Linked DNA regions of Homo sapiens: region 2 is linked to region 1. The links come from fine-mapping of genetic effects on gene expression. Tissue or cell type: lung. Region 1 holds a variant in brackets; the other region holds the start of a gene. All regions are shown on one strand. Distances are from middle to middle.

Region 1 (5,265 bases):
CTACAGTAACCAAAACAGCATGGTACTGGTACCAAAACAGAGACATAGATCAATGGAACAGAACAGAGCCCTCAGAAATAACGCCACATATCTACAACTATCTGATCTTTGACAAACCTGAGAAAAACAAGCAATAGGGAAAGGATTCCCTATTTAATAAATGGTGCTGGGAAAACTGGCTAGCCATATGTAGAAAGCTGAAACTGGATCCCTTCCTTACACCTTATACAAAAATCAATTCAAGATGGATTAAAGACTTAAACGTTAGACCTAAAACCATAAAAACCCTAGAAGAAAACCTAGGCATTACTATTCAGGACATAGGCATGGACAAGGACTTCATGTCTAAAACACCAAAAGCAATGGCAACAAAAGCCAAAATTGACAAATGGGATCTAATTAAACTAAAGAGCTTCTGCACAGCAAAAGAAACTACCATCAGAGTGAACAGGCAACCTCCAGAACGGGAGAAAATTTTCACAACCTACTCATCTGACAAAGGGCTAATATCCGGAATCTACAATGAACTCAAACAAATTTACAAGAAAAAGACAAACAACCCCATCAAAAAGTGGGTGAAGGATATGAACAGACACTTCTCAAAAGAAGACATTTATGCAGCCAAAAGACACATGAAAAAATGCTCATCATCACTGGCCATCAGAGAAATGCAAAGCAAAACCACAATGAGATATCATCTCACACCAGTTAGAATGGCAATCATTAAAAAGTCAGGAAACTTTTGTTTCCTGCTGGAGAGGATGTGGAGAAATAGGAACACTTTTACACTGTTGGTGGGACTGTAAACTAGTTCAACCATTGTGGATGTCAGTGTGGCGATTCCTCAGGGATCTAGAACTAGAAATACCATTTGACCCAGGCATCCCATTACTGGGTATATACCCAAAGGACTATAAATCATGCTGCTATAAAGACACATGCACATGTATGTTTATTGTGGCACTATTCACAATAGCAAAGACTTGGAAGCAACCCCAATGTCCAACAATGATAGACTGGATTAAGAAAATGTGGCATATATACACCATGGAATACTATGCAGCCATAAAAAATGATGAGTTCATGTCCTTTGTAGGGACATGGATGAAATTGGAAATCATCATTCTCAGTAAACTATCGCAAGGACAAAAAACCAAACACCGCATGTTCTCACTCATAGGTGGGAATTGAACAATGAGAACACACGGACACAGGAAGGGGAACATTACACTCTGGGGACTGTTGTGGGGTGGGGGGAGGGGGGAGGGATAGCATTAGGAGATATACCTAATGCTAAATGACGAGTTAATGGGTGCAGCACACCAGCATGGCACATGTATACATATATAACTAACCTGCACATTGTGCACATGTACCCTAAAACTTAAAGTATAATAATAATAAAAAATAAAATAAAATAAAATACAGATATTGACAAAAAGCCAGCTCATAAGTATCACTAATTCAAAGAGTATTTGAGATTAATCACTGTGGCCAGGCGCAGTGGCTCACACCTGTAATCCCAGCATTTTGGGAGGCCGATATGGGTGGATCACAAGGTTAGGAGTTCAAGATCAGCCTGGCCAACATGGTGAAACACTGTCTCTACTCAAAATACAAAAATTAGCCGGGCATGGTGGCGCACACCTGTCATCCCAGCTACTTGGGTGGCTGAGGCAGAAGAATTGCTTGAACCCAGAGGTCAGAGGTTGCAGTGAGCTCAGATCACACCAACACACTCTAGCCTGGGTGACAGAGCAAGACTCTGTCTCAAAAAAAAAAAAAAAAAGGAATAAAAAAGATTAATCAATACATAAAACAACTTGAAAGGTTCTGAAATCTTAAAATGTACATATGAGTAAGTTTGAGGGTGGTTTTCAAAATGTGTCAACCATGTTCAAAATTCACTATATTTCCAATAACAGTTTCAAAAATGAAAAGACTAAATTATGTTTCTGTTCTGTATTGAAAAACATATAACAAAATCATTGTCTTTATTTAAAAAGGTACCAATACTTATGCAGCTAAAAAATAATAAGAAAAAGTATTTAGAGGTCTGTAAAGCAGTTATTAAAAATTGATATTTTCTAAATTTTGGGGTGTTTGGGGATGTTTTCAACTTTTAATTTGTTAACATTTCTTATTTTATATAACTATTCAATTTCATATCTAATGTGGCAAAGCCTTGCTCTCCTAAAAAAGTCTGCCTTTTTCAGAAATGGAAGGAACATCACAGCTTCTCTCAATAGGATATATAGTCAGGATAGAAATCAAAACCCACGGACCTCTGGCTCAGTAGATAATCACTTTATGTAAGAATTACATTTCAGTAACAATGTCATAAGTGAATAAATGCTGCCTAGCAATACACAGGCATAGTCATTATTTGTAGTTTCTTTTTAAAAGCATTTTTTCCAAGCCGTCTTTAAGAATCTTGCTTTCTCGCAATTTTCCTCTTTTCTCTTTCTGGACTGATAGAGAAGCAAGTTAAAGAAAATTCTCCTACACAGTTTCCACTATTGGCTTAATGACTAACACTCTTCTCAAAATCTGGCTAAGTGCTTGAGTGTGCTGCACTATGTGTTTGCTC[G/A]TGTGTAAAGTGGCATGCTTACAACTGGCCTGTTTTCCCTTTTAATGTTAAGAACTCACATTTCCAAACACAAGTGTGAGAGAAGCCAGAGGCCATGGAATCCCCTGATGTCACTGGCCTGCCCTCTGCCATGGTCTGCCTGGGGTGGCTTCTCTTGATTTAGTGGTGCCATAATGACGGAGTTGAGATAGCACAGTTTCGTGATTCTTTGGGTGGGGTTTTTCAAAGAGTGTACAGTCAAGTACAACTGAATGAAAGAGTGACATAAACAGGAATTTTTTTACTTAATTTAAAAAGAAAGTGTTCTGGAAAGACACTGCACTTTCATATTAGTTGTGTGATCTTAGTGTCTTAATCTCATTTGTAAAATGAGGATAACAGTATCTATGACATAAAGCTGTTTTATTTTTGTTTTTTACAATTTACAATCTTTTATTTTTCAAACCGTTAAGTGGTTACATTGAGAGACAGAGGAGAGGGCAGCTAGCTATTGATAGATTTTATTTCTATAAGAATCTCACAAATAACTCTTGAATATTGCAGCTGGATCAAAGGCTTCAATGAGGCTGCTGACTTACAACCTTCTCTATGCCTCCCATATACCTACGTCATTTTGTTGATCTCTAAATCTTAAATAGAGGGCTTCCTCTGCTGGAGCAGAGACTGGGATCATCAAACCCATTTTATCTTCTTCCTAGACATGGGTTTAGATTACCTTTCCTGGGCTACTTGGCTGTTAGGTTTGGCTGTGACTGAGTTTTAAGTAATCTTAAAGGACTTTGTAAGTACTCTTATAGGACTAGCCTATGAAAAATTTCCAGGCATAATTCTCCATATTTCTTCAGCTGCTACAAGCCTAATAAAGATAACCATGGTAATTATAGAAGCCACTGCTAAGGAAGATATAGGCATTGAGGAAAAAAAATCAGGTCCCTGAATTATTGCTTTGGCAAGAGTTACAAATCAGGAGTATCAGTTTTATAAGTAAACAAGAAGTGATTTTTCTATCATGGTTGAGCAATGACACATTTAGGGTTTATTTTTTTTTTAACAGCAGTTGCCTTAAATGAAATACCTCCTAATTGATATTAGTAATGTGATTACTATGAGAGAAATGTGATTTGGACTTTGAAAATGTATTTTCCCTTCTCCTTATAGAGAAAGGTTACAATATGCAACTTTTGTGAAGATTAAAATAATTGCTTCAGTGATGTTGCTTGATTAATTATACATATTATAGTTAACACTACTATTATCGAGTCAACAGATGTTTATGAGCATTTACTAAGTAAAAGTTGCTGTGGTATATCTGACAACATAATAGTTGACAAGAACTCTCATCTCATGGAGCTTATGTGTCACCATTCCACTTAAAAAATTCTCCTGTTGCTTTTAACACAATGACGTAATGATTTTTTCCTGTGTTCCTATTTTTTAATTCTCTGCTCCTAATATGAACCCTGAAAACATTATCAGAGTGCCTCCCATATAATAAATCAATAAATTTTTTCAAATGAAGAAATATTGCAGCCATGGTGTGAATTTTAAAAAGCCAGAAATTACAATGGCTAACTGCATGAGGGAGGATAGAAGTATTTATTAATATAGATCTCCATGAATGTATGAAGAGAGCTCCAAACAATTATATAAGCTGTAAGCCTCAAAGAACTTGGATCTACCCTTGAATAACAGGTTTGTAGACATAATAGTTAAGTTTATGTGTCAGCTTGACTGGACTACAGGGTACCCCGGTATTTGGTCAAACATTATTCTGGGTGTGTCTGTGAGGGCCACTTTGGGTGGGATTAACATTTAAATCAGTAGACCAGTAAAGTAGGATCACCCCTCATAATGTGGGTGGCCCTCATCCAATAAGGTGAAGTTATTAATAGAACAAAAGGCTGATCTTCCCCCAGATAAGATAGAATTCTCCTGCCTGACAACCTGCAAACTAGGACGTCAACTCTGTGGATTTAGGACTTGCAACCTCCATATGCCTGAGCTAATTCCTTATAATAAATAAATAAATAACCAACAGTGATATGTGTGTACGTGTGTGTATGTGTATGTATATATATAAACAGAATAATGCATATTATAAGGAGATATGTGTGTATATACATTCTAACAGAACAAATTATATATACTAATACATATATATGTGTTATATATTGAGGGATGTGTATATATATGTGTGTGTGTGTGTGTGTGTGTGTATGTTCTGTTTCTCTAGAGAACCCTAATACATTAAAAAGGTTAAGTTAAATTTCAGACTTTTTGAATCTGTGACTCCTCTGAGATATTTTATATACTAAAAACATGCCTTGGATTACTGAGAGCATTTTTTTGGCCTAAAAAATCACATATCAAAGGTGAAATCCCAAAAGAATTGTTCTCCTGACCATTCACCACTCTTTATTGGAATGAACATAAGTAAACCCTCTATAAGAAACATGCATAGATACAGCCCCATAAACTCAAATCCAATGCAACTTTGCACACAATATCCAGATCCCATGAAGTCTCATCTGTGGCCCTTAGCTAAGAAGACCTATTCTGAAAAGTTTCAATAAGAGCCAAATTTAAGAAGAGCATTACTTCACAATTTCTATATTTTTCTATTTGTAGATTTTTAAGAAATAGGCTGTGCGCGGTGGCTCATGCCTGTAATCCCA
Region 2 (5,265 bases), 620 kb before region 1:
CAACCCAGAGAATGTAATCCACTCCTCTGGCTCAGCTCAGTGCACCGTCTATTGTATCCTGCTGTTTTCCTTGTCTATAGGAAAAATAGGCTTGGGAGGCATATAATCTAACTATTCTTCTAGATCGATTTTTACAAAACATGTGGGAAGCAGGCCCAGAGCAATTGAGACGTCTAAGAAGTTCATAAGTATTATTTTCAAGGGACTAATAGCATAGAAGCTTTCTGAGTCATCGTTAGAAATATGTGACACCAGAAGGTAGGTCGCAGGCTGGCATCATAAGGAATAAGAGTTTGGGAATGCTTTCACAAGGCCCAGAGAAGGGATACATGGGAAGAAAGATGTCTATTTAGTCCTTTTTATTTTATTTAAGCCCAATTAGGGTATAAACATTGTGTAAAACCTTTGGATTTTCAGAGAGGAAAGATAATAACAAGTAGTTCAGTGAATGGTTTGAAATGCGACGTGGAAGGTATTGTTCAATATTATGCCAAGATCTCCCAATCTTGATGACAAACTTCCATGCAGGGACTTTGCAATCACCGTAGTCACTTAAAGCAAATGTGGTTGTTAGTGTCGTTCCAAACATTATTTTCAAGATGTGTTCAATACTAGTGTTTCAACTTACATGAAGAACTTTTGCTATAATTCATGTTTATGGTTTTTAGAAACACTCTAGAGAATAATTATGGCCAAATGGGTATATTTAATTTCTTTTCAACTTAATAAAGGGAGGTGTGGTAATAACCCTTTCCACAGAGACCAGCTGGGTGATAGGGTCAGAAGACGAAGATTCTGCTGGTGTAGGCTGGGGGAAACACTTTAAAAAGGAAGTGCATCTGTACTACAAGCAACCACTGCAAAGTAGGGAAAGGGAGAGTAAGGGGCCAGGGAAAAGTAAAAACTTGAGATATAATTACAAAGAGAAAATGTCACTTCACCTGGACTATCATCATAAACAACAGCTCCTGTACAATGTCCTTATAACAAAGGAAAAATGAAGAAAATAGCTCCCTACGTTTCCACCAAAAAGGTGGATGATCTTAACTTGTTGCAGAGGGCATGAGCTGTGAGCGGATAAACAGCCCACTCTGCTGCTCTGTCTCTGGGGGAGAATTGTTGCAGACTGCAGGTTCTCTGACTGCTGACAGATTGCCTAACTCTGGCCGTGGGCCTCCAACTTCGGGAAGCTGTGGGTATTGTATAAAGATGTAAGTTAAACACGTTTCAGAAGCAGCTTGGTACTGATTTGGGGAGTCAAGTATGTTTCAACTACAGACCTCAAAGTAAATATTTACTAATATGGCAAAAGTTCAGCTGTAGGGCAGAACCAGCAGCTAAAAAGCACAAGGAGGGAGATCATGCTTCCCTGGCTGCAGCTTGTTTACCAACCTTCAACTCAGATGTGCATGTTCCTTTGAGTGTGTGTGTGGGGTGGGGAGGAGGTGGAGTGGGAGAGGGGTAGGGGGGTGAGGGGTGGGGTGATGGTGATTGGGGGCTGAGGTTTACCACTTCATCAGTGCTCCATTTTCACTGTAAAGGGTTTGAAGGAACTGATTTTACCAGCCAGGTTCAAATTGTATGCCAAATTTGTATTATAGAGAGACTTGTGAACTCCATGTACAGCCCCATTTGCACAATAACAAGCTGTTACCCTCCAGGTGTTTTGATGTAGTGTGTTGTCCATATTTAGGACTCTGTGTTTAGGATTATTAGAAATGAGGAGAAAATAGGAAGGATAGGAAGCAAAACAGTTAGCTCAGCCAAGCAATTTATATTCTAGTTAGCATTTGGTGGAAGGGGAAAATTGAAGTAGTTCCTACAGAAAGCATATGGAAATCAGGTATCAAAGACCTTTTTTCACTCTAGGCTCAGTCACTGGTCATTCAGCATGTGAGGTTTTATGTTCAGGACCCTGCAGAGGATATCTGGAAGCCTAGCGATGAAGAGAAATGTCTTCTCAAGGAAAGGCCGAATCATGGGCTTTTCCATTACTTACATGGCAACCTGCAGATCAAAAAGTGTTTCAGAGGCTTAATGCACTGGAGTATCCCACTAGCCTTGATTTTATAAATGAGGAAACAGAAGGCCAGGAGTTAGGTGACTCCAGGTTACATAGCTATTCAGTGTCAAAGCCATAGAAGATAGGCAATCATTTGGCACCACACTCTTCCACAATTCCTTTATGAAGGACCAGTTTTCCAGTAGGCAATCCAGGAGAAAGAAAGAGAGAGAGAAAGGGAGAGAGGCAGGGAAAGAGGGAGAGAGTGAGGGAGCGAGGGAGCTAGGGAGTAAGGGAGGGAGGGAGGAAGGAAGGAAGAAAGGAAGGGGGGAAGGGGAAGAGGGGAAGGGGAAGGAAGGAAAGGAAGGAAGGAGGAAAGGGGGAGGGAAAGAAGGGGGAAGGAAAGAAGGAAGCAGGGAAGAGGAAAGAAGGGAAGGGGGAAGGGGAAAGAGGGGAGGGGGGGAGAGAAGGAAGGAAGGAAACAAGGAAGGAAGGACTAATTTGAAAAATAACCAATGTTTTACCTAGGCTTCAGTGAATACCTCCCCCTCCCCACACCAATTTACCGCTTAGATAAATATGTTTAAGATTACTTGCAGGCAGAACTACTTGTGTTACAGCACAATTGTTTCTACTTTCCCCTTGGCTCTTCCCCGCATCCAGAAGCCACTACTGCCTCTAAAATAAGACCACAAGGCAAACACCCAGAGACATTTGAGCCTCCAACTAGGAAACTAGCAGAAGCTCTACCACTGCCCACAGCAAAGATTCAAAATTGGGGTATGTCGAAACCTTCACTGAATTCATATATTTACTTTTCCGGTTCACCCTACGTTACACAGAAGTTGAGATTCCTTCCCTCCGCTGAGAAAAGTGCATTTTCTTTCTCTGTGCCAACACTGCTGGATCCGAGGCTCCAGGAGGAACTGTTGGCAAAGCAGGCGTTTTGGGACCGCGCCTGTGATTGCTCTGTGGCGCCGACTTCCTCTCTCTGTTACATCCATATACAAATGCAAGCTTATTTATTTATTTTAATTCTCCCTCTCTTGCTAGCAACCTGTGGACTTGGCATCTGACTGGTGCGGCAAGGAAGGAGGCTGGTAGGTAAGCGCTACTGTGCCCAACCCCGAGCTGCCTCTTCGCAGTCTTCAGGAGCAAGTCCCCCATTCCAGCTCCTCTGGCAGAGTATGGAGTTACCTGCGTCCGGGGCAGGAAACCATGAATGTGCCCTTCTGCCCTCTTGCCTTTCTGCCACTCTTTGAGTTCCCGTCCTTAATTGAAGAGCCAGTGACTATTGGCTGAAGTTCCCCCAGCGATTTGCATGAACCGAGAGGGAGTGTCTTCTGCCGCCCTCCCTTCAAGAGCGCTCTGACTGCAGCCTCCCAGGGAATGCGCGGCCGAGGGAATGCGCGCAGCTCACAGGCCCTGGGAGTGAGCTGGTGCCCGGCGACCTGGCACCCGCGCCTGGATATGGGGCGTCTACATCGTCCCAGGAGCAGCACCAGCTACAGGAACCTGCCGGTAAGGGTTAGGGTCAAGGAACCCCGCGACCCCGACAAGTTGCAGTATTGTGAAGCAATTCCCACTCGGATGGTTTTTCAAACCTTCTACCTTTATCTAAACTTCACGGGAAGGATGGCGCCGGGAGGGAAAGGGAGTTTGGGATAATGTGTCTTCCTTTTAACAAGGAATAGGGAAGTCCGTGGGTCATGAGAGGAAGTTTCTGAAGCAAGAAATGTATCCAGATAAGGTCGAGGGCATCGGGGGTGCGCTCAATCCGCTTTAGCTACAGGGGTTCGGGATCGTTTCCTGCTGCTGGCGTCTGGCTATGAATGCCTACTGCAATTGACAAATTGTTTTTGCATAGCCATTTTCCGCGTTTACTTTGCTTCCCCCTAAGGGAGGGGGATTAGTGACTGCTTGGTAAGGGGTGGAAATCCAGATCCTTTCGGTTTGATTTCAGATGTGTGCTAAAATAAAAATCACTCTTTCCGACCTAAGACCTAAAGTGTTGGAGGTGGAGGAGGAAGTGTTGGTATTTTTTCTATATTATTATTATTATTGCGATTGTGGTTGTTTTTATGGTTCTCTTAGTAAGGGATGTAACACACTGCGTGTTCCAGCACTCTAATGGCAGAATCACTTCAAGGAGAAATAAATTGCCCACCTTTCAGTGCTCTCTACTACCAGCCCCCTCCCTCCCCATCACCTACCCTGGGTTTCCGTGTCGCTTTGCGCAGTCTCTGAGTCGGAATCCTCTCCACTCCGGTGTGTGTTTCCAGGGATGTTTTACGGTTTGGGATTCTGAATGTTAGCTGGATGAGGGTGGTGATGGGGAAACGAGGGGGGAAGGCGGGGGCGGAGGGGATAGAAAGTGAACAGCAAAATTAAGTTTTGGAGACGATATTGCCCCACAGATCTCTCCTTCGCAGCAGGGTTCTTCTCCGCCCCCGTTCTAATTAGAGGTTTTGCTTCTGGGAACGGGGATGGGGACAGCAAGGATCACAGGGGCGCTAGTTTCTCTCTCGGACCCCTATTTCCCCGTGTGTGTAATGAGCTTTCTTCCCTCCCCCAACTCCAGCATCTGTTTCTGTTTTTCCTCTTCGTGGGACCCTTCAGCTGCCTCGGGAGTTACAGCCGGGCCACCGAGCTTCTGTACAGCCTAAACGAGGGACTACCCGCGGGGGTGCTCATCGGCAGCCTGGCCGAGGACCTGCGGCTGCTGCCCAGGTCTGCAGGGAGGCCGGACCCGCAGTCGCAGCTGCCAGAGCGCACCGGTGCTGAGTGGAACCCCCCTCTCTCCTTCAGCCTGGCCTCCCGGGGACTGAGTGGCCAGTACGTGACCCTAGACAACCGCTCTGGGGAGCTGCACACTTCAGCTCAGGAGATCGACAGGGAGGCCCTGTGTGTTGAAGGGGGTGGAGGGACTGCGTGGAGCGGCAGCGTTTCCATCTCCTCCTCTCCTTCTGACTCTTGTCTTTTGCTGCTGGATGTGCTTGTCCTGCCTCAGGAATACTTCAGGTTTGTGAAGGTGAAGATCGCCATCAGAGACATCAATGACAACGCCCCGCAGTTCCCTGTTTCCCAGATCTCGGTGTGGGTCCCGGAAAATGCACCTGTAAACACCCGACTGGCCATAGAGCATCCTGCTGTGGACCCAGATGTAGGCATTAATGGGGTACAGACCTATCGCTTACTGGACTACCATGGTATGTTCACCCTGGACGTGGAGGAGAATGAGAATGGGGAGCGCACCCCCTACC

What was found. PIP is the estimated chance that this variant, and not a neighbour inherited with it, causes the effect.
Region 2: PCDH20 starts here. The variant in region 1 is the best candidate, but not a certain one, in a credible set for the expression of PCDH20 in lung (TOPMed, PIP 0.58).

What each region holds. Positions count from the first base shown.
Region 1 is chr13:60,796,018-60,801,282 of GRCh38, reverse strand. No RefSeq gene overlaps it. Among named protein-coding and RNA genes, the nearest start is that of LINC01442, 120 kb to the left of the region's middle. The variant G/A (reference allele first, on the strand shown) is at 2,591.
Region 2 is chr13:61,413,285-61,418,549 of GRCh38, reverse strand. PCDH20 (protocadherin 20) reads left to right here and starts at 2,701. Exons shown (of 2, transcript NM_022843.4): 1 at 2,701-3,523; 2 at 4,584-5,265. The coding sequence starts at 3,392.